Linked DNA regions of Homo sapiens: region 1 is linked to region 2. The links come from fine-mapping of genetic effects on gene expression. A gene starts in region 2. The other region holds a variant in brackets. All regions are shown on one strand. Distances are between the middles of the regions.

Evidence for each region. PIP is the estimated chance that this variant, and not a neighbour inherited with it, causes the effect.
Region 1: its variant is the best candidate, but not a certain one, in a credible set for the expression of FABP5 in whole blood (TOPMed, PIP 0.59).

Annotation. Positions count from the first base shown.
Region 1 is chr8:81,294,343-81,310,395 of GRCh38, reverse strand. No RefSeq gene overlaps it. Among named protein-coding and RNA genes, the nearest start is that of LNMICC, 21 kb to the right of the region's middle. The variant G/C (reference allele first, on the strand shown) is at 7,790.
Region 2 is chr8:81,272,082-81,287,216 of GRCh38, reverse strand. FABP5 (fatty acid binding protein 5) reads right to left here and starts at 6,681. Exons shown (of 4, transcript NM_001444.3): 1 at 6,543-6,681; 2 at 3,679-3,851; 3 at 3,243-3,344; 4 at 2,442-2,703. The coding sequence starts at 6,621. The coding sequence ends at 2,650. LNMICC (lncRNA associated with lymph node metastasis in cervical cancer) reads left to right here and starts at 5,793. Exons shown (of 2, transcript NR_186603.1): 1 at 5,793-5,884; 2 at 6,841-11,818. RefSeq lists enhancers at 5,369-6,203, 6,204-7,038 and silencers at 6,633-6,922, 6,933-7,012.

The DNA.
Region 1 (16,053 bases), 23 kb before region 2:
AGGGTTTTCTAAGTTTACGATCATATCATCAGCAAACAGTGAAAGTTTGACTTCCTCTTTACCAATTTGAATGCCCTTCATTGCTTTTTCTTGTCTGATTGCTCTGGCTAGGACTTCCAGTACTATGTTGAATAGAGTGGTGAAAGTGGGCATCCTTGTCTTGTTCCAGTTCTCAGGAGAAATGCTTTCAACTTTTCCTCATTCAGTATAATGTTGACTGTAAGTTTGTCATAGTTGGCTTTTTATTACATTGAGGTATGTCCCTTCTATGCCGATTTTGCTGAGGGTTTTAATTATAAAGGGATGCTGGATTTTGTTGAATGTTTTTCTGCATCTATGGAGATGATCATGTGATTTTTGCTTTTAATTCTGTTTATTTAAGGCATCACATTTATTGCCTTGCGTATGTTAAACCATCCCTGCATCCCTGGTATGAAACTCACTTGATCACGGTGAATTATCTTTTTGATATGCTATTGGATTCAGTTCACTAGTATTTTGTTGAGGATTTTTGCCTCTATGTTCACTAGGGATATTGGTCTGTAGTTTTCTTTTTTTGTTATATCCTTTCCTGGTTTTGCTATTGGAGTGATACTGGCTTCATAGAATGATTTAGGGGAGGATTCCCACTTTTTCTATCTTTTGGAGTAGTTTCATTCAGTAAGATTGGTACCAATTCTTCTTTGAATGTCTAATAGAATTCAGCTGTGAATCCATCTGGTCCTGGGCTTTTGTTGTTGTTGTTGTTGGCAATTTTTTAAATTACTGTTTCAATCTTGCTACTTGTTATTGGTCTGTTCAGAGTTTCTGTTTCTTCCTAGTTTAATCTAGGAGGGTTGTATAATTCCAAGAATTTATTCATCTCCTCTAGGTTTTCTGGTTTATGTGTGTAAAGGTGTTCATAGTAGCCTTGAATAATATTTTGTATTTCTGTAGTATTGGTGGTAATATCTCTCGTTTCATTTCTAACTGAGCTTATTTGGATCTTCTCTCTTCATTTCTTGGTTAGTTTCACTAACAGTCTATCAATTTTATTTATCTTTTCAAAAAATCAGCTTTTTGTTTCATTTATCTTTTGTATTTTTTTATTTCGATTTCATTTAGTTCTGCTATGATGTTAGTTATTTCTTTTCTTCTGCTGGCTTTGGGTTTAGTTTGTTCTTATTTCTCCAGTTCCATGAGATGTGATCTTATGTTGTCTTTTTGTGCTATTTCAGACTTTTTGATGTAGGCATTTATTGTTATGAACTTTCCTCTTCACACCATTTTTGCTGTATCACAGAGGTTTTGATAGGTTGTGTCACTGTTATCGTTCAAAAATTTTTTAATTTCCATCTTGATTTCATTGTTGACCTGCTCCTGATCATTCAGGAGCAAGTTATTTAATTTCCACATATTTCATGATTTTGAGGTTGCCTTTTGGGGTTGATTTCCAATTTTATTCTACTGTGATCTGAGAGAGTACTTGATATAATTTTTATTTTCTTAAATTTACTGGGACTTCTTTTGTAGCCTATCATATGGTCTATATTGGACAATGTTCCATGTGCTGATGAATAGAATGTGCATTCTGCATTTGTTGGGTAGAATGTTCTGTAAATATCTGTTAAGTCCATTTGTTGTAGGGTATAGTTTAAGTGCATTGTTTCTTTGTTGACTTCCTGTCTTGATGACCAGTCTAGTGCTGTCAGTGGAGTACTAAACACCCCCACTATTATTGTGTTGCTTTCTATCTCATTTCTTAGATCTAGTAGTAATTGTTTTATAAATTTGGGAGCTCCAGTGTTAGGTGCATATATATTTAGAACTGTGATATTTTCCTGTTGGACTAGTCCTTTTATCATTATATAATGTCCCTTTTTGTCTTTTTTAACTGCTGTTGCTTTAAAGTTTGTTTTGTCTGATATAAGAATAGCTACTCCTGCTCACTTTTGGTGTTCATTTGCATGGAGTATTTTTTTCCACCCCTTTACTTTATGTGAGTCCTTATGTGTTAGGTGAGTCTCCTGAAGACAGCAGAAACTAGGTGGGTGAATTCTTAACCATTCTGCCATTCCATATCTTTTAAGTGGAGCATTAGGCCATTTACACTCGATGGGAGTAATGAGATGTAAGGTACTATTCTATTCATCGTGCTATTTGTTGCCTGAATACCTTGGGTTTTTTTCATTGTGCTATTGTTATATAGTTCATGTGAGATTTATGCTTTAAGGAGGTTCTATTTTGGTGCATTCTGAGGATTTGTTTCAAGAGTTAGAGCTTTCTTAAGCAGTTCTTGTAGTGCTGGCTTGGTAGTGGCGAACTCTCTCAGCATTCATTTATCTGGAACAGACTGTATTTGTCCTTCAGTCATGAAGCTTAGTTTCGCTGAATACAAAATTCTTGTCTGATAATTGTTTTGTTTAAGGAGGCTAGAACTAGGACCCCAATCCCTTCTAGCTTGTAGTGTTTCTGCTGAGAAATCTGCTGTTAATCTGATAGGTTTTCCTTTATAGGTTATCTGATGCTTTTGCCTCACAGAACTTAAGATTGTTTTCTTCATCTTGACTTTAGATAACTTGATGACTATGTGCCTAGGCAATGATCTTTTTTGCAATGAATTTCCCCAGTGTTCTTTAAGCTCTTATATTTGTCTAGATCTCTGGCAAGGCCGGGGAAGTTTTCCTCCATTATTCCCTCAGATATGTTTTCCAAACTTTTAGATTTCCCTTCTTCAGGAACACCAGTTATTCTTAGGTTTGGATGTTTAACATAGTCTCAAATTTCTTGGATGCTTCGTTTTTTTTTTAATAATCTTTTTTCTTTGTCTTTCATGGATTATGTTAATTCAAAAGCCTTGTCTTTGAGCTCTGAAGTTCTTTCTTGTTCGATTCTATTGCTGAGACTTTCCAGTGCATTTTGCATTTCTCTGAGTGAGTCATGATTACCTAATGTGATTGTTTTTCATTTATGCTATTTCACAGAAGAATTTTCCTTTCATATCTTGTATTATGCTTTTTTATTTATTTAAGTTGGACTTCACCTTTCTGTGGTGCCTTCTTGATTAGCTTAATCTTTTGGGGGTGTTAAAGAATGTTGTTTTGTCATATTTCCAGGATTTTTTTTCTGGTTCCTTCTCTTTTGGATAGACTATGTCGAAGGGAAGATCTGGGATTCAAGGGCTGCTGTTCAGATTCTTTCGTCCCATGGAATGCTCCCTTGATAGGATGTTTTCCCCCTTCTCCTGGGAATGGGGCCTCCTGGGAGCCAAACTGTAGTGATTGCTTTTGCCTTTCTGTGTCTAGCCACCCAGTGGAGCTACCAGGCTCTGGGCTGGTACCGGGGAGTGTCTGCAAAGAGTCCTGAGATGTGATTCATCTTAAAGTCTTTCAGCCGCGTATAACAGCACCTGTTCTGGTGGAGGTAGCAGGGGAGTGAAGTGGACTCTGTGAGGGTCCTTGGTTGTGTTTTTTAGTGTGCTGGTTTTGGGTTGGTTGGCCTCCAGCCAGGAGGTGGTGCTTTCAAGAGCGCATCAGCTGTGGTCCTATAGGGAGAATGCAAACTTGCCCTAGGGACACCTGGTTAAGTACTCAGGTTTCTCAGGTGGTGGGCAGGCCATAGAGCCCTCAAGAAATTGAGACCTTTGTCTTTGGCTACCAGAGAGGGTAAAGAAAGACCACCAGGTGGGGACAGGGATAGGCGTGTCTGAAATCAGCCTCTCTCTGGGCGGGTCTTGCTGCAGCTGCTGTGGGGGATGGGAGTGCGGTTCCCAGGCCAATGGAGTTATAGTCCCGGAGGGATTATGGCTGCCTTTGCTGAGTCATACAGGTCACTAGGGAAGTGGGAGAAAGTCGGCAGCCACAGGCCTCACCGCATTCCCACGCAGCCCATAGTCCTAAAGGCCGGTCTCACTCCCACTGTGGCCCTGCAACAGCACCAGGTCTATTTCCAAGCAGCCAGTGACCAGGGCTGAGAACTTGCCCCAGACCACGAGCCTCCCTGTTGAGAAAGCAAGCAGACTCACAGTTTTTCAGCAGCATCTCAGGGAGCCTGCAGTAGTGATCCAGTACCTTCAAAGGGTCTGTGGATTCTCTCAGCTTTCCTGGTATGTTCCTGCAGTAGTTCTTGGAGCAAAAGTTCACAATGTGAGTCTCCACACGCTGCTCTGTCCATCTGAGCAACAGCTGCAAGCTAGTCCTGCCTCCTGTCTGCCATCTTAATCTGTCCATCCTTAATTTTTTTCACAGCATTAAAATTTTCTTTGAACCTAGGAATGACATAAAAGTACCTAGGAAAGGTACTTCATGAATCAAACCCAGAAATATGAGAAGAATTTAATTTGGTGATAAAGGAAGAGGATGGCATTCTAGTAGAAAAGAAGAGCAAGCACAAATTATGTAAGGAAATAAAAGCATGAAACATTTAGAGAATAGCAATTTCTTTACTTTTATTACTTTATTTTAACTAATGAAGGAGAAGGATAATCAGAAATCAGTTGAAGGAGCAGGTGGCAATCAGATCTTGACAGGCCTTGGACCAAAAAATTTCTATGAAAATCTGGGTTCCCATCACCACATTCATTATACCATCTTTTAGGACAGAAAGTGCAAGTAACTTTTCTGGAATATTAGCTAGTATTTATGACACATGTATCTCCTCCACCTAATTGATGGAGTTAGGGATTGGGTTGGTTCAAAGTCACTAGCTTCCAAATTAACCTGAACTGGAAGGTGATCAATGGCCTTTGTAGTCACTTGGTATAAAACTCTGCCTAGTAAGAGTTCTTTGAATGGAATGGTGACAAAGTAGTCAAAATGAATCATCTCTCTTGGGATGTATAAATAGAAAGTACTCACAGGGAAACAAATCACTGAAGCCGTAGCCAGATGCAAAATAGTATAAAAATATTATTACAATTCTCCATAAGATTTATGGAATACCCAATTATTGAAGTTCCAGGACGTAACGCAAATTTGCAACAAATCTATGAAACAGTAGCCCAGGTTACCTTGTTATATCTTGATTTTTCTGATAAACTTCCATTACCAGTGGTAATCTGGATGTACCACTTCCATGCAGCATTAGAAACAAACACACTCAACCTCTTATGAGATACTGAAGGGTCAGTATTTTATCTTGAATGTACTAGCTACGCCTACCACCAGGTAACAACCATACTATCAAACCCAGGGACTATGACCATTGTATTTTTAATCGAGGCATATTTGGTGCTTAGTAAATAGCCTGGGACTCTGTGACACTGAACAATTTCATATTAAGTAAAAGAAAACAAATGAGTTAGAGGAAATCAACCGAAAAAACTGTTTTATAACACACTTGAAGGTAATATTTTTAAATGATTCATCTGTTGACAGGACATTGATAATTGTGACATTCTGTGGGTAAACTTGGCAGGGATTGGGTCTTTGATGTTGCAACCATGAATCTTCCCATTGGCCAAAAAGTAGTCATAGAGGCAAAAGGAATACTGTTAAGATACTGCCAATAAGTACGATAAAAGTCAAATAGAAGGGTTGCATATTGCAAGATATGCAGTAGTTGATTTATCAAGCAAGTATCTTATGTCATTAGGGCAATCAAGGTTTCTCAACCTGTTTTTCACAAGATGTTACTTGTATTTTACAACAGAAGTTTCTGATCAACTATACTCAGAACATGCTACTTTAAACACGGTTGGTTAAGTTTCTTAATTTCAGGATTTTTCAGTCTTTGATATGCTAAGCAGTATTATGAATGTCTAAGAAAAGGTGTTAAGCATACAACCTTATCTCCCTAATTTAACCTTGCCTTTTTTTGGTGTAACATCTCAAACACCATTCAGAATCACCAGTTTATATAATTTCCATTCACTGTAGTTATGACCAAAGAGTTAGTTTTTAATTCAGTGTTTCAAAATTTTAAAAGAAAATTTAGCCTTTGTTTGTCAATCATGCCTCAATAAAACTAGGAAAAAATACAATTAAAATGTTTTTAATTATCTTTAAAAAACAAAAGGGAGAGAAAATTTCGCCAAAGGAATTATTCAGTATTATAATTAGGTAAGATTCTTACGCACAAGACATTCTCTGCACCTGGATTTATCAAGGAAAGTTCAGTCAACATGAAGAAAAGAGGCTTATTTGGATCTTACAAGATCTGCATGATCCTATCCTTCCTTTGGGGAACTGGATGAGCACCAGAGGACAGGGACTCCCCAGGCCTTTTGACAGCTGCTCCTCCCAACGAATAAAGGGTATACACGAACAAAATTAATTATTTTATGATATAGCTACTTTAAAAATACAATATTTGCACTGCTTTTACATCTGAGTAAGCTTATTTCCTTTACATCTTGGTGAGAACAATAATAATATTCTTTTTTACTTAGAATACCAATGGATCGAGTATATCTTTTCATTAAATATGGTCATCCCCTTTTTTAAAAAAAAAACTTCAATAAAAAATATGTATGGATCTGACTGACTTTCAATACAAAGAAAAGCAAAAAGGAAGTTATCCCATCATTCTGAATTAAAACGCAATCTGCAAAATCTGTTAAAAATTGTTTCTTATTATTGTGCCAGTAACTAATAGCCTAATTTTTTTAACATTAACTCTCCACCGAGGAGGCTTACTGAGCTAAGCTTTTTCTCATAATATTAAGCATAGTCGAAGGAGTATTATGGTTTATATTTTCCTTAAAATTCTAGAGTAGATACATGAATCTATTCCAGAGTAGAGGCATGAATCTATCCCAATAGTAACATGTACAGAGAGGATGCAAGATGCTTAGAAGTAGGGAGATGTGTGTCCAAGATCTAGTTTTGCCTGGAGCAAAACACTCCAGGTATTATTTCCTTCACATAAAATGAAAAGATTAGACTTCATTTTAAGGATTCTTCTAGCTCTAGCTCTAAAAATCCATGATTTGAAAATGTTTTTTAATGTGTCAGCCGTTTCAGCTGAAATACAAATAAGTAGCACAAGACTGGGTTGTGATGTCTCACGTTTCCCCATTACAAAGTAATAAATGATTCCTAAGGGATTTTTCAACGCACTCTTGTGCAGCCCATCACTAAAAGGAAAGCTGCCCGTTAATCTCATAGAGTGAGGCTAAAGACACTTTTGGGGCAGAGTGGGGAAGATGATCTCACAGGAACAAAATCTGCAGAAGTCAAAGCTACACATATTTACCAAAAAGATGTTCATTTTGTTTTTCCTTTATTTTATTTTACTTTATTTATTTTTTTTTTGAGACGGAGTCTCGCTCTGTCGCCCAGGCTGGAGTGCAGTGGCGCAATCTCGGCTCACTGCAAGCTCCGCCTCCCGGGTTCACGCCATTCTCCTGCCTCAGCCTCTCCGAGTAGCTGGGACTACAGGCACCCGCCGCCACGCCCCGGCTAATTTTTTGTATTTTTAGTAGGGACGGGATTTCACCGTGGTCTCGATCTGCTGACCTCGTGATCACCCGCCTTGGCCTCCCAAAGTGCTGGGATTGCAAGCGTGAGCCACCGCGCCCAGCCGTTTTTCCTTGATTTTATGACTTTTTCTACACTCTCTATTCTGAGTTGGAATCGCATGTCAATGTGAGCTAATAACATGAGCCCAAGCAATACAAGATTTGGATGTGGAAAGTCAAGATATTCAGGGGCACAACTTAAAAGAAAGCTTATTTTTACACCTTTCAGGCATTTGTGTGAATACTTATGACACCTAGTGGTGAAAAACTGGGAAATGGGATAATCAAGGAAGAGGAAGTGGCAATGGCCTGAAGGAGAAAAGATTGTAGATAAGGAACTGCTTTTTAGCA[G/C]AAAACTTATCCATAGAGGTGTCTAGTTCTGTGATCCCTTATTTAAGAGGAAACAATTAGAAGAAAACACAATATACAAGGGTTAAAACGATCCTTAAAAAGCCAAAGACTCTAGAGAATCTGGAAATATGCCATCTACAGCAGCCATCCCCAACCTTTCCATGGATGGAGAGGTGGGTTGAGGAGGGGGATTGGTTTTGGGAGGACACTGTTCCACCTCAGATCATCAGGCATTAGGGCATTAGATTCTCAGAAGGAGCATGCAACCTACATCCTTTGCATGCACAGTTCACAATAAGGCTCCTGTTCCTATGAGACTCTAATGCAGCCAATGATCTGATGTGAGATGGCACTCAGGCAGTAATGCTCAGTTGCCTGCTGCTCACTTCCTGCTATGCGGCCAGGTTCCTAACAGGCCACTGCCGGGTACTGGTCCACTGCCTAGGGGTTGGGGAATCCTGATCTTCAAGGAAAGAAAAAGAACTTCCTCCATGTATATTCTTCCCATCCAGAAGTAAGGAAAACAATCGTTCAAGAACTTCTGTAATCTGCTACAGCTCAATCCAAGTCTGCATGGATCCACACTGGTCCTCAAGACAGCTGAGCCAAGAGGACCCATTGTAGCAATATCTTTTTATTTCCCATATACTAACATAATCTTAAAAAACATCTTTGTAAAGACTGAGAATGCTTTCTGCAGTGATATTAGAACGACTAGGAAGACACTGAAACTGTTTTTGGCGTGTTGGGATTCATTTTAAAGGTAAATGCCTAATTTTTCATAATCAGACAAATCTGCAGAATTTCCAAAGAGAAGAGATGTAGAACTTTTTAAATAAAAATAGTAAATTACATCATCTCTTAGAAAACAGTGAGAATCAGAAAGCTACTAAAATGAAGAGAGAAGATACATATAGATCAAATGGAGTTGAAAATAAACACATTGTGTGTGTGTGTGTGTGTGTGTAAAAATAATGGAGAGGAGTGGTAATGAGACCATGTGAATGGGAAGAGTCCTGTTAATAATATTCTTGGAACTGATTACAAGTGCTCATTCCTTTAGTTTCCTGAACTGTTTGGCATTTCTCAATGAGGTTCATTCTAGAAATATTTTCATTGCAGGTCTACCAGCTCTACCATGTACTTCCCTCCAGTACTAAATATTCCATTATTGCTTAGACCATTCGTATCTGAAGTATGCTCCAGAACTTCTGCAGCTGTTATCAGCATTCCTCCTATACGCTGTAGAGATGGTGGTAGATGGAACTATGTAAGTCACCTCTCTTTGAAATGTAAAACAAAGATAAAATTCAAAGGCCCCCCACCCGCCATCTGAATGAACTCCCTCCTTGTCCAGGGCACCTGAAAGACTGGTTCTGGCCATGATGGGAAAAGGGGGGTTGGAAATGCCTTATTATGCGCTCCTTTCTTTTGAAATTCAGAAAAAGCGGACCAGCATTTGACATCAACACAGATCTTAAGTCTGTTAAGAAACATTTACAATCTATTTTCTCTGAAGCCTGCTATCTGGAGGCTTATCTGCATGATAAAACTTTGGATTCCACAACCTCTTATCCTAACTGGAACATTCCTTTCTATTGATAATGACTCTTTCAACCAATTGCCAGTCAGAAAAATTTGAAATCTACCTATGACCCTGGAAGCCCTCTACCCTGCTTTCTGGATTGCCCTGCCTTTCTGGACTGAACCAATGTATATCTTAAATGTACTTGGTTGATGTCTCATATCTCCCTAAAATGTATAAAACCAAGCTACACCCTGACCACCTGGGGTACATGTTCTCAGGGTCTCCTGAGGGCTGTGTCACAGGCCCTGGTCACTCATATTTGGCTCAGAATAAATCTCTTCAAGTATTTTACAGAGTTTGAGTCTTTTCATCAACAGAAAGCAAGGCCCTGAACATTCCGGCATATATGCCTTGCCCAAGATGGATGCTCCCATTAATATGTTAACCTAGGTATTAGTTTCTACAATTAAATTTATTTGCAATTACTCAAAAATTATTTATTAATTTGGATTGCCTATACTACTGCTCCCCCCCTTCTTTTTTTTTTTTTTTTTGAGAGGAAGTCTCTCGCTCTGTCACCAAGGCTGGAGTGCAGTGATCTCAGATCACTGCAACTTCCATCTCCCGGGTTCAAGCAATTCTCCGGCTTCAGCCTCCCGAGTAGCTGGGATTACAGGTACCCACCACCACGCCTGGCTAATTTTTTGTATTTTTAGTAGAGACGGGGTTTCACCATGTTTGTTAGGCTAGTCTCGAACTCCTGACCTCGTGATCCGCCTGCCTCGGCCTCCCAAAGTGCTGGGATTACAGGCGTGAGCCACCGTGCCCAGCCTCCCCTTCCTTATTATAAATAAATAGTCAAATGCTGGGAGACTCTGGAATCCATTCCAAACACTGAGAATTGTCTGAGAATTGAACTGGCTCAGTGGATGCATAATACGTTTCCTATAACTGGGGCTGAAAGAGCTTAAATTAGAGTTAGCTGTTATGCAAATAGAAAAAGAAGAAGAGGAAAAGAAATCAAGTTCTCAGAATCCAAATGCCTAGAGAAAAAGCTTTTAGGAATCAAGAAAGGCAAAAATATGTTTTATGCATTAAAGCTTCTCTTGAGATCTTTCATACAGCCAGCGGTGTTCTGGAAGTCAAGAGAATGGGAACTAACAGAGGCTCTATCATAAACCATTTGTGTATTGTTGAGCAAGTCACATAAATTTTCTAGGTCTTCCTTTCTTCATCGTGTAAAATGAAAACACAGCCATAAAAAAGAACAAAATCATGTCCAACATGGATGCAGCTGGAGGCCATTATCCAAAGCCAATTAACACAGAGACAGAAAACTAAACACAGGATGTTCTCACTTATAAGTGGGAGCTAAACATTGGGTACACAGGAAACAAAGATGAGAACAACAAACACTGGGGATTCCAAAATAAGGGAGGGAAGAGGGGGCAAGGTTGAAAAATTACCTATCTGGTACTATGTTCACCACTTGGGCGATGGGATCATTAGAAGCCCAAACATCAGCACCAGGCAATATATCTATGTAATAAATCTGTACCCTTTGAATCTAAAATAATTATTTTAAAAAGCAAAGTATCATACAACTATAAAGGTAAAATAATAAAGTAAAACTGAAATTTCCGATAACTATGAAAGAATTAAATAATGTTTTTTCATTAAAAATAAAACGAAGATAGTTTATTAGATGATATCTGAGGTCCCCTTGAGCTTCAGAATTTGATTTTTTAATAGTTTATTGTATCTACTTTTTCTTGTTTTACTTTCTATACTAATTATGCTCCTCAAGTTCTGAGTTCAATACCTTTTCAGATTTGAACAAGAGAATAACAAAATAAAGATGATACCTGTTTTCTCACTGCTATGGGAACACAGAAAGTAGAAAAATATACCAGAGAATTAGCCTGGGAAAGAAAGTTAGAGAAAAAAAGTCGTGTACTTCATTTAGGCAGTGACTTATAACATTAGTTTCATGTGATATGTACAATAATTATTTTATTGAATGTTTAAACATTATTGGTTTGAAAGTTAAGACTAATAATTTTCTGTTTCAAAGGCTGAAGAGAGTAGGCGTAACGAGTCAAGAATTCACAAAGTTAAAAATTGTTTTAAAACAATTCTACATATTTCAGGAAAGAGTCAAATACCTGAAATGAGATTGAACCCTCTGTAAGGTTCCTTTCAGCCCTGAAAATCTAAATACTATATTTAAATCTCCTGGACTTTTGTACAAAATGACTCTTCCAAGTCCCTCCACTCTGGGCTTGGGGTTTATTTGATTCCATGACTCCTGTTTTGACAATCATGAGAACAAGGAAGATAGTGGATGAATAAAGATGGGAAAGGTGAAGAGATTTAGAACCAAAGATGAGTTTCACTGTTTTTACCATTCTTAAATTTACCTGGTGAGGATCATGAAGTATAGGGAGGCTAGGAAGAGAAAGAAACAAGAAACAGGAGTGTAAGCAAACTAGTATTACCAGGCACATGCAGGAAAAAAAAAATCAATGTTTTATTTTTTTGTTTGCTTTTAAAAGAAATGCTGGGTTTTGCATTCTAGCCCCTCATTCATTCAAGACTCCCTTATTTGGTATTCAAGTGCAATCTGCAAGTGGGTGGTGTGAGTTTGTATATTTGCAGAAGCACTTTTCGGGAAGTGCTAAAGTAAATCCTGTGGTTGAGAAGTTTGTTGTACAGTACTTAAGGAGCACAGATTGTTTTGGTTTCCGTGTTATTTATTTAACTTATAAATTAAACTGTGAGAGCATACATACCACGCACACAATTCAGAGAACAGACAATGTAAGAATGTAAAAAAAAAAAATAAAAAAAAATGCCCTGGGGCAGAATCTGATAGTGTTCTTTTCCCAATTAATACATCACCTATCAAACTACGTTGAAAATCCATATGCTTATCTAACGTTTCAAAGTGATTTCTTCCTTCAGTAATAAAAATGTTTTTAAAGAGAGTGAAAACATTAATTCTACATGGGGGAAACATAGGATATATAGCAATTAAATAACCATGATCTAAATTATTTACTACATTAGCCTGCCTTTGTTGAAACTTATTTCAGGGCCTAGTTTGATATACTTGACTAGCAGAAAATTACGGAGTTTTAAAAAATCTGAGGCCGGGTGCGGTGGCTCACACCTTAATCCCAGCACTTTGGGAGGCGGATTACAAGGTCAGGAGTTCAAGACCAGCCTGACCAACATGGTGAAACCCCGTCTCTACCAAAAATACAAAAATTAGCTGGGTGTGAAGGTGTGTGCTTGTAATCCCAGCTACTTGGGAGACTGAGGCAGGAGAATCACTTGAACCCGGGAGGCAGAGGTTGCAGTGAGCTGAGATCATGCCACTGCACTCCAGCCTGGGCAACAGAGTGAGACTCCATCTCAAAAAAAAAAACAAAAAAAAACTGAATTACATGCATCACATGTGTTCTATACTGTAATGTATAAATTCTGTTCAAAATCATTCTTGTGTTTGTTTAGATAACATCTGTTTCCATGTCAGTCTAATGCATTGTAAACTTACTGAGGGCAGGGAGCATGTCTAACCTAATGAGAGTTGCCTCAAATAAATATCAGTCCAGAACAATACTTTTATGCATACCAAACCCATCCCTGCATCTCCCCCACCATCTTCTCAGCCAGTAAGAAACTAAACTGCCTCTGCCTGACTCTGTGCTGGACTACTTGCTCTTGTCAACCTCCTATAACCACCAAACCAGTCATGCATCATGACCCTGAACAAACTGGGCCCTGTGTTGTCTCTGTAATGAATCTCCCCTTCTGGAGATATTATTAGCAAAACAATATTCCAGGAACTTGCCTTATATCGGTTCCACTTTCTCTGAGGCTGCTTTTCCAGCAAGAAGTATTACTGATGGATAGGCCCTTCTGCTTATCACAGAGCCAGCCCTTTTAAAACACATTCTTATCTTTGAGGATTTTGGCAGCAGGTACTCCACTGTTGAGCACTTACTTTTAGAAAATGCACTGACTCCCAGATGAAATTAGGTAGATGAATTCCCACCCCTATAGTGAGTGACATATTTTTTTTTACTTCTTTCTTTTTTTTTTTTTTTTGAGATGAAGCCTCGCTCTGCAGCCCAGGCTGGAGTGCAGTGGTGTGATCTCGGCTCACCGCAACCTCTACCTCCTGGGTTCAAGAGATTCTCCTTCCTCAGCCTCCAGAGTAGCTGGGATTACAGGCATGCACCACAGCACCTGGCTAATTTTTTGTATTTTTAGTAGAGGTGGAGTTTCACCATGTTGGCCAACCTGGTCTTGAACTCTGACCTCAGGTAATCTGCCCACCTCAGCCTCCCACAGTGCTAGGATTACAGGCGTAAGTCACCGCGCCTGGCTGTGAGTGATATTTTTATCAGTAAATGGTTATTAGTTTCCTACAGGAAGAGACTAAAGGATTAGGTATAAACATGTATTCATATCTACTCAAATAATTCCTGTATAAGTACTCATGAGGGGCAGAATAATTTCAGACATCAGATAGCATCCATTGAACTCTTGCGGCTGCCTTATCATCAAGTAACCTACATCTCTCCTCAATGCTGTTAGCAGCACTTAGCAGCTCAATTCTTGATCTCCATTTGTACTTAGACTTTAGAGTCTCTTTAAATTGAATAAAACAACATAGCCTGAACTTTGGTTATCTATAAGAGCAAAAGACTGAAAACAATCCACAAGACTATTAATTAAGCCTTTCCCAAGTATATTTGCAATTTTCTAAAACAAAACAGCACCATATGTCTGATAAGGACCTACCTTAGAGGAGTTGTTAAATTAATAAAGCAAGGTACAGAGATGCATATATAATTATGCCTGGATTTACAGAGAATATTGCTAGAAAGATAAATAAGAAAAAGGTTACCATGATTGCCTCTAAAAAGGAGACGAGTGGCTGGGGACAGGGGTAGTAGGAAGGCTGACAATTTTACTACTGTATTTTTGTATTTTGTAATGTGACACTGAAGTTATTTACAGACTCAAAATGATTTATTAATTTTTTTTAAAAACCAGCATGGGTATTGGAATTAGACAGACTTGGATTAGTATCCTGACTAAGGTTGCCAGACATAAGATGCAGGACATCCTGTATTTTTTATTTTATTTTTATTGCTAGATAAAATGCAAGAGTCCTGTATTTTTATTTGCTCAATACAGCAATCCTAGGTCCTGACCTCACCATTTATTTTGTTTGTAACTCTAAACAAGTGAGTTAGGTCAGATTCCTCTGAAACAGAAGGAAGGAGAGGAAGCCATGAAGGATGAGATCTCAGGCTCAGCCCCATCCTGTGGGTGAATTCAAGTGTGAGTTCAGCCTTGGTGTTGTCCCATCTTCAGCAAGGGAGCTGGGTTTCATATTCCCACACTGCACCAGGCAGCCCTGGCAGAGAAAGAAGAACACAAACTCTCAGTCACTTTCAGCCTTCTGCATGTGTGGGAAAAAGGGCTCTAGTAGTCCAAGGACAGATTTCCCACAAAGAGCCTTAGCTGCTGGCTGCTGAAAGTACACCAAAGCCAGGGGGATAAACCATAAAAACGTATTCAAAGGGACAAGCAGGTCACTGGGAGTCATGGTGAGCAAGGTCACTCCTATTCCTGCCTCTGGTTCCTGAGCCTGTAGATCGCTCCCATTGGATTCCCATTTGTACTTAGACTCTAGAGTCTCTATAAATTGAATGAAAAGTAGCCTGAACTTTGGTTATCTATAAGAGCAAAAGACTGAAAACAATCCACACAAATTTTATTTTTATTTATTTATTTATTTATTTATTTTGAGACGGAGTCTCACTCTATTGCCCAGGCTAGCATGCAGTGGCATGATCTCCGCTCACTGCAACCTCCGCCTCCCAGGTTCAAGCAATTCTCCTGCCTCAGCCTCCCAAGTAGCTGGAACTACAGGCGTCCGCCACCATGCCTGGATAAGTTTTTGTTTTTTGTTGTTGTTTTTTTTTTAGTAAAGTTGGGGTTTCACCATGTTGGCCAGGCTGGTCTTGAGCTCCTGACCTCAAGTGATCCACCCACCTTGGCTTTCTCCCCAAGTGCTGGGATTACAGGTGTGAGCCACCGCTCCCAGCCACCATGACTATTAATTAAGCCTTTCACAAGCAAATCTGCAATTTTTAAAAACAAAGCAGCACCATATGTAATAGCTGCTGCTTCATGCTGCTTACCACATCCTGAAGGACAGTACCCCAGTCTTGGGTTTGCCTTCAACAGACCGTTCCATGCTCCATCAGGCTAGAATCGTCTGAAAGTGGTGGTTTGTGGTAGGAACAGCAACTTTCCTCATCATGGACTCTTTGCCACACTTCATTCACCATAGAATGGGTCTCAAGGTGATGTTATATCAACAGATGAAACACTCTGTGGGCCCCCAGACAGCAGTGTTGGCTGGGGACCTGCAGAAGAAGGGAAAGCTCCTTTGTGGAATATGTCAATCTGGTCAGGATGAATTGAGCCCTGGAGTCCTTTGAGTAAGGACTGGAGGGATCCCTGCTGCATACACTTATGGTGGTGTTGCAGGGAGTTCTGTCTACCTATTGCTACAGAACAAATCACCCCAAAACGAGGCTTAAACAACAATCATTTTATTATGTCCCAAGGTTTTGGAGGGTCAGGAATTTCCAGGGCTCAGCAGGGCTGTTCTGAGTGAGTTCCCCAGAAGCAAAGCCAGAGCAAGAAT
Region 2 (15,135 bases):
TATTAACAAATTCGTTCATTTAACAAATATGTATGGAGCATCTTTTGTATGTCGGGTTCTCCCCTAATTGCATACTAGAGAGTGTGTGCACTGTTAGAAACAAAGTCCCTTCTTCATAAGACTTACTTTCTATTGGGGAGACAGATAATAACCAAAAAAATTAAGAAATAAAACAAGTGAATGTATAGTTAGAATTGATGATAAAGGTGAGGACTATGAGAAAAAATAAAGCAGCTTAGGGGAATTGAGAATGTGGGGGAGGAGTGGCAGCTCTGATGCATCATGTGGTCTGGGAATGACTCACTGTTAGGGTGACCTTTAGGGAAGAGACTCTAAGGAGTGGAGAAAGTGTGGGCTGCAGCCTCCTTGGGGAAGAGTGTTTCAGGCAGAGGAAACAGGTGCAAAGGCCCTGAGGCAAAAGCACATTTGCATCAACATTGGCCAAGGTCTGAGGGAATGTTTGAGAGGACAGTGGCAGGAAATGAAATCAGGAGGGGGCACTGGGAAGGTGGAAGACACAGGCAAATCACATAGAAACTCTATGAAGATCTTAGCTTCTACTCCTAGGGAAGTAAGAGGCCAGTGGAGGGTTCTCAACAGAGGAGTGACATGTTGTAACCTGTGTTTTAAAATGATAGCTTTGGGAGAATAAAGTTGCAAAATGGCAGAGAAGGGGAGAGATGATGGTGATGACTGAATGAGGGTGGTATCTGTGAAAGAAGTGACAAGCAATTGAATTCTAGGTATATTCTGATGGTAAAACAAATAATTTGCTAATTGATTAGATATAAGATGGTAAAGAAATAATCAAAGATTAGACATTTAGCCTGAACACTGGAAACATGACATTCCCATGAATTGAGAGGGAGAATACTGCAAGAGGAATCGGTTTGAAAGTTTAAAACATAAGAATTTCAATTTTGGAAACATCCCATGCTGTCCAAATTAACAGTCACTAACTACATGTGGGTACTTAAATTTACATTTTAGTTAATAAAAACTAAATTAAAAATTCAGTTCCTCAGTTGCACTCACCACATTTCAAATGCTCAATACTCACTTACGGCTAGTGGCTACCTTAGTGGCCAGTGCAGATATTAAAGAGCATTTCCATGTCACATAAAGTTATATTGGGAAGTGCTGGTGGGACATTAAGCCTTTACTATATTATGGGTCCCGTGCTAACTTTCATTTTTGTGTCGTATTTTTTATTGGACAGTGTTGATTTAGACTTCCTTTCTATGTGAATTTCAATCATGCTTATTTCAGTCTCTATGCTAGGGTTCTTCATTCATCCACATTTTCCACTTCTCATAATCATGTTTGGTTCAGAGAGAATGTCAATAAATATACATAATTATGAGAAGCGGAAAATGTGGATGAAAGAACCCCAGCATAGAGACTGAAATAAGCATGACTGAAATGAAAGTACATGCAATTTTTACATTTTCCCTAGAAACATTAAAAAAGTAAATGGGTAAAATTAACTTTACAAATATATATTTACTTTAATATGCAATCAATACCAAAAAAATCATTAATAAGGCATTTTACTTTTTGTACTAAGCCTTTGAAATCCCCTATGTACGTCTCAATTCAGACTAGTCACACTTCAAAGGTTCAATAGCCATGTGTGACTCATAGCTATGTATTGGACAGGACAGGACTAGAGTATCAGCGAGTTGAAAACCTCCACTGACTGCTAGCTGTGGCTAATTCTTAAAAGAATAGGCTTACCAGTTAACATTTCTGCACGTGGAGGGTGGTTTCAGAAGTCTCACTTAGTATACGTAGGGACTTTAGACAAGATCTGCACAAGCTGCAAAGAGACAGCATTGCAGAATGACTGAACACATTGAGTAGACTTGATGAGATATAGGTTGTCGGTCCAGCTCTACTACCTCCTGTCCTTGAACTAGTTACTTGCAGAATGGTTGTAGTTGTACCAGCCCTTTAACGTCTGCCCTAAAGATCATTTATGCGAAGCTTTAGCTCAGGGCCAACAGCCTGCTTCTCCAAATGTGAACTGTGGATATTTGTGTTGGGGACCGAGAAACAGAGATTCACTAGAATTCTGGTTATTCCATACATAGTATTACTTATATTTGTATATAAATACACACAAAAAGTATTTTAGTCAATGCTGGTTAATTAAACCTTTGCTCTAATTTGAATAATAAAGTTTATGTTGTAGTCACCTTTTATTGAGAATGGTCTCTGCCAGAAATTCAAGATTCCTGAATTCATACAAAGTTCAAATAGTATAGGGCAAGCTTAAATAATTGGTACAGTATTTCCTGTAAGAGTAGCTATCTATATAAATTGCTAGAGTGTCATCTCAATATAGTACCCTCAAGACTGCCCCAACCTTTACTCAATTAATAATTATTAAAACTCATCACTAATTTCCTGTAAGGTTTAAAGAATGCATACAAGATATATTAGCACAAACACATTTATTTATTAACCAAAGGGATGATCCTAATTAATCCAACACACTTTGAAATAGCTGCATGTAAAATGTTTATGATAAAGATAATTGAACACAGTAATGAAAAAAAAAAGAAAGAAACAGTATGGAGATTTGCTCATTGAACTGAGCTTGGTCATTCTCTTAATTAACTCCTGTCCAAAGTGATGATGGAATTTTTATTCTACTTTTTCATAGATCCGAGTACAGGTGACATTGTTCATGACACACTCCTAGAAGAAGGAAAGATATTAAAAGAGTTAGGTTAGCCTTAGATTCCAGAGCAGTGGTGGTATTAAAACATTAGAATCAAAGTCCCACGAAATCACGTAATCTACTTCATAGATGGAGAAAATTTCTTTCAGAATTCACGGGTTTGAGAGAAGCCAGAAGCTGTTGTTTTGCTTATAATATGCATGTTTTACAGAAAACTAATGTGTTGAATATATCTTTATTCTTTTGGTTATGGCAAATATTCCTTATTTTAAAGATATAGAAAAATGTGTGCAGTTTGGTGGCTTGCCAAGATTTCACTGTGACGTGGCAGCAAAGCAAGAACTCCCCCCAACTCCAGCCAAATCCTCTCCTATGTCATGTCACTTCTCTATCTCCACTAGGACTTTCTTAATAATTAGTGTTCTAGTATTTAACTTGTTATTTTGCTTTTTTTTCTTCCAAACTGAGTTCTGTTAATGATCAATGATATAGAACAGTTATGTGAACTATGAATGCACACAAGAAGCTGACTGAGACACAGCAGTTTGACACTTACCACCACTAATTTCCCATCTTTCAATTTTCTTGTTATTGTGCTTTCCTTCCCATCCCACTCCTGATGCTGAACCAATGCACCATCTGTAAAGTTGCAGACAGTCTGCAAAAACAAAGTAAACGTTTTAATCTTCCAAGTACATTACAAGAGTTTCCATGACTCATAACCTCCTTAATCAACATTTGTTTCACCTTCTCCTTTCTGAGTCTACTTCATTAACCCATATTGATTTTATTCACAATAGTTTGTGGTTTTCAACCTAGTAGCTAATAAAAGATGCCAATTCTATGATGAAGTTGATACTTTTGCTAATTTGACAAAATTCAATTCATAAAATAACTTTTTCATTAAGTTCTTGCCTATAAACAGTAAAATGTTATTGATACAGCCTATCATTCTAGAAGCTTCTGTGATTTCATAACATGTCACGACTGACCTGAGTTTTTCTGCCATCAGCTGTGGTTTCTTCAAACTTCTCTCCCAGGGTACAAGAAAACTGTGTTGTTTTCAAAGTGCTCTCAGTTTTTATGGTGAGGTTTTTACCATCACAAGTGATGATACAATCTGGCTTGGCCATTGCGCCCATTTTTCGCAAAGCTATTCCCACTCCTGTAGAATGTTAAGTCATGTTAAATAACAGGAAGACCAAAGTTATCATTTACATGATAAAAGCAATAATTCCATTGTAATCACTTTGTGCGGCATATTTTCACTTATTTGCTTATTGATAACTATTGTAAACATATATCCCACGGTATGAGCCAGCACTTTACATATATGAAATTCAGGTAAGCCTTACAACAGCCCTGTAAAAGGCAGATGTTACTGTCTCCATTTTACTGATGAGAAAGCGAGGCACGGAAGTAACTTGCCCAAGATCATTCAACTAGAAAGTGATGGAGCTGGGAACCAAGAGCACTGGCACCCTGGCTCCAAATCTGAGCTCTGGCCACCATGCTATGCTGGCTTTCAGAAAGTTAGGGAAGAAATGTGGACTTCCAAATTTTATTTACTCAAAGCAGTTGATAGAAGGTGGAGATAAAGCATTCAAAATTGCAAATTCAGGAGTTTGCTCAATCTTTTTCTTTTTACTAGATTCTGCCAACCATTACATTCTATGACTCCAGCACAGTCTGGCATATAAATGTTCTCGATAAATATTTGATTAATAGACTACACAAAATAGAAATTGATCCTGAGATATTCAAATAGCACAATCTTTTAAAACTCAGCAGCACAATCATGATGCTAACAAATGGGAAAAAAAATCCTACCTTTCAATATAAAAACTATTTCATAGGTATATAAATCAATAGAAATATATAACATATTAAATTATATTTTAATTTATGATCTATCAATTTCCCCTCAACGTTAACATGTAATTTATGATCTATCTCTTTCCCCTTAGAGTTAGTTAACATGTATAAGGAATCTTAGATCCAGGCCAAATCACTGTTTCATAAATGAGGAGACTACAACCTACGCAGCATGATTGTCTTGATGAAGAACACCCAGCCAGGCTTTAAAGTTCCCCTTGGAGCCTTCTCTTTTGCCAGCTCAGGGCTGGTGCCTTATGCTGTTAATTGAGTCATTATGTACTCTCACTTTGGACAAATAAATGGGCTCTGCTCTTTTCACATTGTGACTGCTCCCTAATGAACTGAGTCTTGACAACCTTCAAGACTCCAGAATCCTGGAAACAAGCCCTCCAAACCTACACACAATTTGCTTTCTACAGGCAGAGAAAAGTGTTCTTTGGGCCTTAAACTTGTACACACACACACACACACACACACACACACACTGTTATTTATTGGACAGGTGCAGTAAATCGCTTTTTCCAGAGTCATCTTGATGTAGGTTTACAAGGAAAAAGAAAAATACTGCCTTCTTTACTGATAGTATCAAAAATACACTCATGATTCACCATAAACCAGCCTTAACACCACATGGTCTTGGATAAAGGGTACTGAAGGAGTGATTCCGAAGTGCCACGGCGACCAGGTATCAATAGAGGGTCACGGTAGTTATTTCACCAGCGAGCAACCGGGTTAACATTTGTGGATACCGGCTTCTGAAGCACCCTCATAAATCCCAGCCATCCCTTAGGGCTGGAAGCTCCCTTCCAGAGAGGATCCATGCTATGCTAACTCCATCTCACTTCCTAGTGGCCTGTGACAAAGGTCCATTTTTGTTTGCAATTTATCCAGTGTCTCAATCAGCATGCAATCTGTCACTGGCATAGAAAAGGACAGTAATTTATAATGAAGCACTGTTTTGAGTGAGAAATGAATCTTACTACTGAGATTCATTCTCCCTCGGAACGCTTCAAGAAGTCATCTGCCTTCTGCAGGGCCACACCCATCTTGCATGCAGTTAGCCGCAGGAGGGCCAGGCAGTTTCTGTTACGGTTTTCCAGCAAAGCCCACTGCCTCCTTCCTCCTCACCCTCAAGTGGCAGAGGCCAGGATGGCAACACACGGCCACCCCCAGGCCTCATTGCGCTCCTCCCACAGGCCACCCGCCCACTGCGGCGCCCCGGCCCGGCAGTGCCAGCAGCAGGTCGGCACCGCCAGCGCCACGCTTCTCGGGGGCCCTGGTGTTCCATGGGGTACCAATCCAAAGGGTTCGGCTCAACTGGTAAGGGCGAGCAGAGGACCTGGGGGAGACGGGGCTGACAGAGGAATGCAAGCTGAAGCTGTAGCGCCACTCAGACCCCTCCACAGGATTTCTGCGGGAAACTGCGCGCCAGCACCGCGTCCCCATGAAGAAAACGGAGGGTGACCTGCGCGCCACAGGGAACAAAAGATGCGACAGGGAGGGAAAGGGGAGTGGGTGCTGCCACGATGGGGTAAATGGGAGAGACAGAATGGTGGCAGGAAGGGGAAGGATGAGTAAAGGGGGAAAAAAGGGAAATACAGGGTCGCCTGGAGGGGGTCGAAAGAAGTGCAGCGTGAGGTGACGGGTGCGCGCGCTAAAGGACAGGAAGCAATGCGGAAGGGCTGCCGTTTGGGCGAAGGGAAAGAAGCAGAGGTAGGTGGACCACGGGGTGGACCACCTCCGGAATCTTGCGGCCCGCGGGCGGGCAAGAGGCGCGCACGCTCCCTGCTCCTCGCCGCCTGCCCGCGTGGTGCTGCGCGCGCTGCACCCAACGGCCGCGTGGTGGGGAAGATGGGAGGGGATGGGGGTAGGCCGCCGAGCATCTCCTGCCCCAGAATCTGGCACGCTGACGGGGACCTAGGGACAGACGACCGCACAACACGCCACGTTGCAGGCGCTGCCAGGCCGGGTGCCTCACCTAGCTCCTTCATGTATTCATCAAAGCCTTTGCTGTCCACCAGGCGCCATCTTCCTTCCAGCTGCTGAACTGTGGCCATGGTGGGTGCGGGCGGGCTGGCGTGCAGAGAGGGGTCTGCGTCGGCGTGGCAGCGTGCTGTGAGGCACCCGGCGCCGGCGGCTGCTTTATAACGGCGGCCCGCGCTGGGCGGCGCTATGCGGCCAATGGGAGGCGGGCCTCGCCCGGTCCCCGCCCCGCCCGCCGGGCGCCCCCTGGGCCTTCTCGGGGTCGGGAGGTGCTAACCAGCTCCTCTTGCCAGGGTACGCGACGGCCTCTCGGGCGCCTCCTGCAAGCAGGGACTCGCCCGGCGCGCCCCACGCCTCATGGACGCCGGCGCCTGCACGTTTCGGCGCCTCTGCAGGCCCAGGAAGCCAGAGGGGTCACCTGGAGGCCTGGCCCCGCCTCTCCTGCACCCCTCCGTTTGACAACATATCCACCGCCGTTTTTCCTTTCAAAATACCCGGACCAATCGATTAGCCCTCGCCGGACTCGGACTGCAGGAAGTGATTGATCGGCTGTTTGGTTTATTGATTCATTAACTACGGTGCCTCCCTGACCTTCTGCTCCTCGCCAGCGCACAAGCTCACAATCCACACCCTCCTAAGAGAACCTGCTCTCGCCATCCGCAGGTCTCCCTGGCCCAATAGTGGGGATATACCTGAGTTGAGCTAGAGGATTTTATCCCTGTTGGGATGGGGGACGTCTCGGGAAGTGTGGTTTCTAAACTAAAAGACTGCAGGAAGTGTCAACTTTAGTGACTGTCATTGCCATTCAAGAATGTTTGATTAGTTTATATTCCCTTCGTAGTGCACCCTTCACCGTTTCTTCTCAGACACCAGCGGGTTTCTTCTCAGACACCAGCGGGTTCCCTCTTTCTCTTGAACTATAATAATACCCTACACATGTGCGTAGAACATGATACGTTTCAAAGTGTACTCTTCACAATTTATTACTTGGTGCTCCCGGGTGCCTGTTGGAAGTCAGATGGACTGAGGTGAGGAAGTTGCCACACAGGCTGGCCGTTTCGATAGCGGTAATGTGCATTTATTGAGTAGCTACTAAGTGCTAGATGTGCTTCCTGGGCACTTTATAGACATTGGTCTCCACTATATTTTTGCTAGGGGTGTTATCCCAATTTTTCAAAAGAGAAAATAGGGCAAAGATAGTTCTCACAGTGGTAGAACCAGAATCCCCATCCAGGTCCGTCTCACTGAAGACCTTATGAAATCAGACCACACCTGACTGCCTTGGGCTCAGGGTAGCTGTGATGGAGCTCTGAGTAGACCACAGTCACCGAGACACTACTAGTTCTTGTATCATCCTTGACAAAATTGAAATCTGAGGTTGGTTTGCTATCTCCCAACATGCTGCAGGACATGTACTCCCCTGAACTGCATCCCTTTCATTTCAAGTCCCTGCCCTCAGTTTAGGGTCACACCAGTCTTCCTTGTGGTACCATTTAACACTCAATTGTTTTCCCAATAAGGGTCTGCATGTCCCACACCCGAGGCCCTACTGCTCAGAAAATATTCGTGTTCTGAGGGAAGCTGAGTGCATCATTTACTCAGTGATGAGAAGCCCTGGCTACCAGGCACTTCAGGCAGCTCCTTAGGGCTGCCTGTGTGTTTGAACTTGAGCTCTTCATGTGCTATTTCAACATGTCTTATCCATTTCTGTATAGACTATATGTAGTAATAATAGGACGCAGCACTCTGATACTAATTTTTAAATGATCATAATCTAACATGTTACAGAAATATCAAAAAGATAATGGCACTGGAGTACTAGATACTTAGGTACTTAAGAAATAGCCTTTAATCCCAAGGCCTTACTTAAAACTTAAGTTTAAACACAATCTCTGATGTGATGAGTGGAAATAATTCTTTTGTGTTAAAACATACAGACAAAACAAAGCTATATGGCCAGAATAATAACCGTTATTGTATCTTGTGGAACAAAAAAGGGCATGGTGATTGCTCTGTTCCTCAGGGAAACACATTGAATGTCTTGTTTTCAGACACCACATCTGATGCATATACAGATGTATGATTGGAGTAGATTATTTCTAATGCCCCTTAAGCTCTACTACTCAGATTCTTTCCTTCTCCAGAGTAATGGTAATGGATTTTAAGCTGTGAAAAAGCAGTTAAGTACTGCCTTCACCCGCTAAGTAAAGGCCTATTCTAGGCTACTTACCTTGCACCCATTATGAGGTGTAAAACCAAAAATGTTGTGAAATCAAATTTCACTGAAGTCTCATATAACTTTATGGAGATGGTTGAGTATTTCTTCTTGGAAAGAAGGAGGAGAATCATCACTTGATTGTGATTAATTACAACATAGGAAACAAGAAACAATAGTTTTATCCTAACCTGTCCTTACGAACATTAGTAACTGTGCTGTTCATTATTTTTAGTAACAGCACATAGGTAATACAGGTGTTATATCATGTTTTCCTTCACACTGGAAGATAATAACACATTATTCTTATGGATGAAAATGACTGAAGAATCAAGAATTACTAGCAACTCTTCTTCCAGTAGCTTAGAAAACTGCCTTTTTCAAGACAGATGCAATTTTACTTAATATCTCTGAAGCTTAGTTTTATCATCTATGAATTTAAGGAGATGAGAATTAATACTAAATGATTTTTTAGGTCCCCTTCAGTTTATGAAGTACTCCTGCAGTAGAAGTTCATGGCCTTGAAAAAGCGTACTCAAAATTACTCTATTTCCACCTAGTGGTGAAACCGTAATATTTCTCTGAGGCTTTACTTGATAAACGTGAGTAGTTTTTCAGCTTCTCATTCTGTAATCACACACAGCTTTGGAGCATATTGTGTCATTTTTATTTAAAGACAACTTCCCAGTTAAAGTTTATGTACATAGATGTGCCTTCCACAAAGTTGATTATTGTATATTAGTTCTTCCTAAGGACAGTTAAGTGTTGGTGGCTTAGCAACAGGCAGTTGGTAGAGAAATGGAGAGTACTACATTAAATTATTGCAGAGAATATTCAAAGTAATCCATTTTCAGGGAACTGAGTCTTCTCTAAGTACATGGCCAGATGATCAAAAAAGGAAAAAAATTAATCACTAAGGTTGGAGAATATGTTTATTTAAACCTAGTGTCTCCCTTAAATTTTATAACTAGATTTTTGACCCTCACTCATCTGGCTTTCCTTGCTATAGACATGCTTTGCATACCCAGCTTCTAGCCACATCTTCCCTAAGAAAATTTCACCTGGAATCAGTTCCAAAAGAAAATCTTAAGAGATAGAGTATGGATCTGCATGTTGTCAGCTACCTAAAGCAGCAAAAATTCCTAGATGAGAATAAAATCAGGGAACCTTGCAGTTTAAGGCACACCTTAAATATTAAATTTTTAATCCTTCAATGCATCCAGCCAAAACAAGAAATTGCAAATAGCTACCATCCATCAATGCAAGGTTTTTTTGGTTTGTTTTTCATAATAAGATTGGTTTTAATTAAAGCACTTATAAAGATGGAGTTATATTTTGAACTTTGTCCTTTTACTTAAAGCAGTTAGAGTCTTACACATCATAACTGCCACGGCTAACCATTAAAATTTTCCAGCTCCTTAAATGATCCATCATAAACTTGTGCTTGCTGAGTTAACTGGACTAGAGGATAGCTGGAGGGAAAATGAGGCATTGCAAAAGTTACAGTAATAAAAAGTGAATGGCTTCAAAATAAGGCAGAGGACATAATGGCTCATTTTATAATAAAAGCTTTCAGTATAAAATTCATACATTTCCCTTACTTATATAGATCTTCCTACTTTCCAGACATGTGTATTATTGTATATTACATTTGTCAATAGCTCATGGCAACAGATACACATAGTTTGGGATAACCCTTTTATACCTCATATGAGCAGTGTTCAAAGGTTTAAAAGCACAACTCCAAAGGGCACAGCTTGAAATGGAGCGGGAGGATGCTAGCAAAGCCACCCCAATAAACACAAAATCTTAGTAAAAGCACTATGTTTACCAGGCAATGCAACTTCAAAACAAATTCCTTAGCAACCCCAACCTCTTCAAGCCCGCTTCTAATCACATTATTACTCCTAAGCCTCCTTATATACAAAATCTTAGGCTGGCCAAGCCCAAACACACAGACACATTAATAATGAGCATCTCTGTCCTTAAAAAATTTCAAACATAAAAAACCTCCAAATGATATGTTCCCACTGGAAGAGGCCAAATTCTTTTCTTGTAGATTACCCTTTTCTATTTTTCATTCCTACCTCCCATGCAGTATTCCTAGATTCTCACACCATTTGATCATTTCTCTATTTTGATATTTATCTATAAGAATTAATGATTTTTTTCAAGTCAAATCTACAAAACCGTGGATTTGCTTGCCTCTAAGCTATTTATCTCAGTGAGTCAGGCCCACTGCTTCCATTTTTCTGGATTAGCTTTGAAGAAGAATCATCAGCACTTAATAACCTACCTAAATCCGACTGAAGATGCTTTCTTGATCCTATCTCTGGTCCTCCTACTTTGGCAGTGGGAAGAGCTACCCTATAACTCCTCAGAGTCATGCACAGAGCTGTAAAACCAGCATGCAGCTGATTTTGTGCACTTCTCTGAAGGACCCAAGCAGCAGGATGGGTACCTTTTGTTCACCCACCCATAGACACCACAGGACACTTTTTGTTCACCTGCTCACTTCTGCATTGACCAAACTTAAAGATACAGATTCAACAGTATGTAGGGGAAGTTTCCAGTAAAGTATATTCTGTTTTCTACATTGGTTAAATATTGTAATTTCATGCGGGAACTGGGAGGCTAAGTAGTTGTTACCATTAAGAAGAGCAACTGTGATCTTACTTCCAGCCTATTTTGGAAGGTGGGATAAAAAATATTTGTGCCACAAATCTCAAATCTTGTCTCCTATCTTACAACCTTGAAATACATAGTTAATTCTGCAGGGTCTCAGACATCCTACTGAGTTGCCAAATATTGAACACCAAGCTGGGCTTGTCAACACTCAGGGCTACAAAGAGGAGATCTCAAAACTACCATGGCCTCAGGATTCTGAATGTGGGTCTGAAATCCCTACTTCTTACTTTGGATTAAAAGCTCACCTGAGCTACACACATCTGTTGTCCTAGAATGGATATTTTTATTTAGATATCAACCAATTCAACTTCACTCCTTTATTGAGTCAGTCAAGAAATCAATAAAATTGACTTCAAAAATTGAAATCACTTCTTAATTCTCCTCTGGTTTTCTTCCTACCCTGCCCTTTCTTCTTCACACTCAATATAGTTTTACCCATCTGAATGAGGAATAAGTCTGACTTGTCTTTGAAACATTTGCTTTATTTCATAACTGCCACACGCTGGGCCTAAAGTGTATGTACCTGGATCTGAAGACAACAAAATACCTAGAGGATCTGCTCTGTGGGTGGGACACGGCAGCTAGAGCTGTGGAGGTCAGGCTTGAATTCCAGGGGATGGTACTGTCATGATTCTGATGGGTTCTTCTGATCTGGATTTGGATCCTGGCAAGAGAATGGTAGACAGAGTTTAGCCATCAGGAAGAAGGAACAAGACCTAAGCTGATGGTCAAATCCTAAAATAACACAAAAATAATCATGTGCCCTGCATCCTTACCTCCTTCTCCCTGCCCAGCACATCAGATAGCATTAATTCTAGTTTCACCATCAGAGCAGAGATGGAGCTCCTAATGGCCTTTCTGCCCTGGTAGGTTATCTGAACACACGATTTTTTTCAGAGTGCAAGATAGGATGACCATATCCTGGTTTGACTGGGGCAAGTCAGAGCTATGCTTGTTGTCCTGGTATGATTTTGAGCAATGCCCTCCTTCCTTCCAACTATTTCAAATAGGATGAAGAGTTGTTATATTTAATTCTCACCTATCAGGTAGCTCCAAAGTCTAAATTTCAAGGAAGGCATTAACATGGTACTACAGCATCATCTATTGTAAGACCTGAAGGTGCCTTGCAGGAGGGAAAAAATGTGGTAGCGCCATGTTCAGTATTACCCTACTCAGGTATCATACAAATATGTCATGCAGGGACAGCTTTGCTTGCTCACAAAAGAATGGCCAGCAGAGATGTCCATACCAGACACATTCCTTTGTCTCAAATCACCCCATATTTTTAGAACACCTAGTAATTATGTGGATAGAATCTAGTTCTTATCTTCAAGAAGTCTGGTATCTAAGTCTATACAAGCTAAAAACTACATCCATTGTGGGTTTTTTAAATTTCACAAACATTTATTAAAAATTGATTCTGTTTTAGTTCATCACATATTGAAAATTTTAAAAAATTGAAGGTCTTTGAAATATCAGGTAAACAGAAGCCCTCAGGTTCCCCATAATTCATTATGCCTTTTTTCTTAAGAAACCACATTATTTTATTTAAGAAATAAATGAAAGGTTTTTAGATCATCACTGGTTAATTTAAAGTCTACATTTGTTGTTTTCCATTTACACAATCATGTTTTTATTTTATTCTTTTAATTTTTTTATTGACAAATAATAATTGTATATATTTATGGGGTAAAATGTGATGTTATGATGTAGGTATAAAAATAAAATACTTAGGAGTAAATTTAACCAAGGAGATAAAAAATCTATATGCTGAAAACTGTAAAACATTGATAAAAGAAATTTAAAATGGCACAAATAAATGGAAAGATATCCTGTATTCTTGCACTGGAGGAACTAATATTGTGAAAATGTCCATACCACCCAAAGTGATCTGTAGATTCAATGCAATTCCTACCAAAATTCCAAGGTCATTCTTCACAGAAATGGAGAAAACAATTCTAAAATTCATATAGAACCACAAAGGACCCCAATTAGCCAAGAAAAACAAATAGCAAAGGCTGGAGGCATCACACTACCTGATTTCAAAAATGTACTACAAAGCTATAGTAATTGAAAAAGCATGGTGCTGGCACAAAAAGAAACGCATCAACCAATGGGATAGAATAGCCCAGGGAAAACCACATCTGCAGTCAACTTAATTTTTTTTTTTTTTTTTTTACAAAGGTGCCAAGAACACACAATGAGGAAAGAACAGTCTCTTTAATAAATGGTATTGAGAAAACTGGAGATCAACATGTAGAAGAATGAAATTAGGCCCTTATCTCTTACCATATACAAAAATCATCTAAAAATGGATTAAATACTTAAATGTAAAACATGAAACTACTAGGAGAAAACATAAAACTACTAGGAGAAAACATAGAGGGAAAACTCCATGGCATTGGTCAAGGCCATTGTTTTATCTTTATAATATTAAGCGAGTCTTTAACAGAAACCAGGTGAGTGTACCAAATAAATATATCTTGTTTAAAATTAATGTGCCAAATGTCAAAAAGTTAACTGAGGTAAACTTTGCTCAGCTAGAAAGATCTTGTCTGAGAAATACTGGGTTAGAAATCATGAAGCAACTCATGTCACTACTCAGCTCTGCCTGTGCTTTAGAGTTAGTTCATCGCTATAAACCGGGTAGTAAACGGACACCAGGCTATGCCTGAGGTGGTGATGCATACTGAGATATACAACTTGCATAATAAAAATTTCCAGAATACAAGTCAAAACTGGAATTGTCACCACCCGGCTAGTTCAGTAAGGGTCAGAAAATCCTGCTGAGTTCCTTTTCTGAGAATTGAGAGAAGAGTCTCAGAAGCAAAGCTGAATGATTTCTTGCCACACATACTCTGATGCCCTTGTCTTTCAGTAGAAACTGTACGTGGTTCCTGGGGAGAAGACTATGGTTCTATATGACAAGTTTTATTTGTTGCATGTTGTAAAATATTATCACTTCTGCAGCTATGTTATCAGGACATCATATAAGTGTCAAGACAGAATAGGACCAGCTTCTATAAACAGGAAAGAATGCCATTTACTGGTGTCCCTTTGAATGTATTTAGCATATGAAAGTTACTCTATGTTATGTACTATATGGGAAAAAAAGCTTTTTTCTCAAATTAAATACCTTTCCATTTTATTGCATTTTTGCATTTTGTTGACATAATCATCTCTGAGATATAGTCACAGAAACAAAAGTTTGACCCCAATATGAAACAGAAAATCAAAACTGCCTAATATTCCATTTGAAAGCATGTGGTGATACAAATCATAACTAGAAACAAAATAAAAATCACATAAGAGTTCAACAAAACATTTATTTGTCATTTTCCAATCAACGTGAATAGTGATGGTAAATCCTGCACACACAAAAAAGTATTGGGTTTCCTTTTGCTTCGTGCTTTACTAAGCAGGTGTCAGCTGCTTCTGGTTTTCCAAGGCAAGGCTCTAGTTCTTTCACACCCAAAGCCTTAGGGCCTCAGTACTCTGAGGGAACCTAACTAGTCCAAGTCACTAATCCACATGAACAAGTAGAACTTGATCTTTGCTGCCCACACCCAAGACATACAGTTTTTAATTGCGTATTTGGCAGTAATTCTTGGTCAGACGTGATCTCAGAACAATGAGTTGTCACTTGAGCAGACATATTGGTAAATTCTTCAAAGTTGTATAGTTT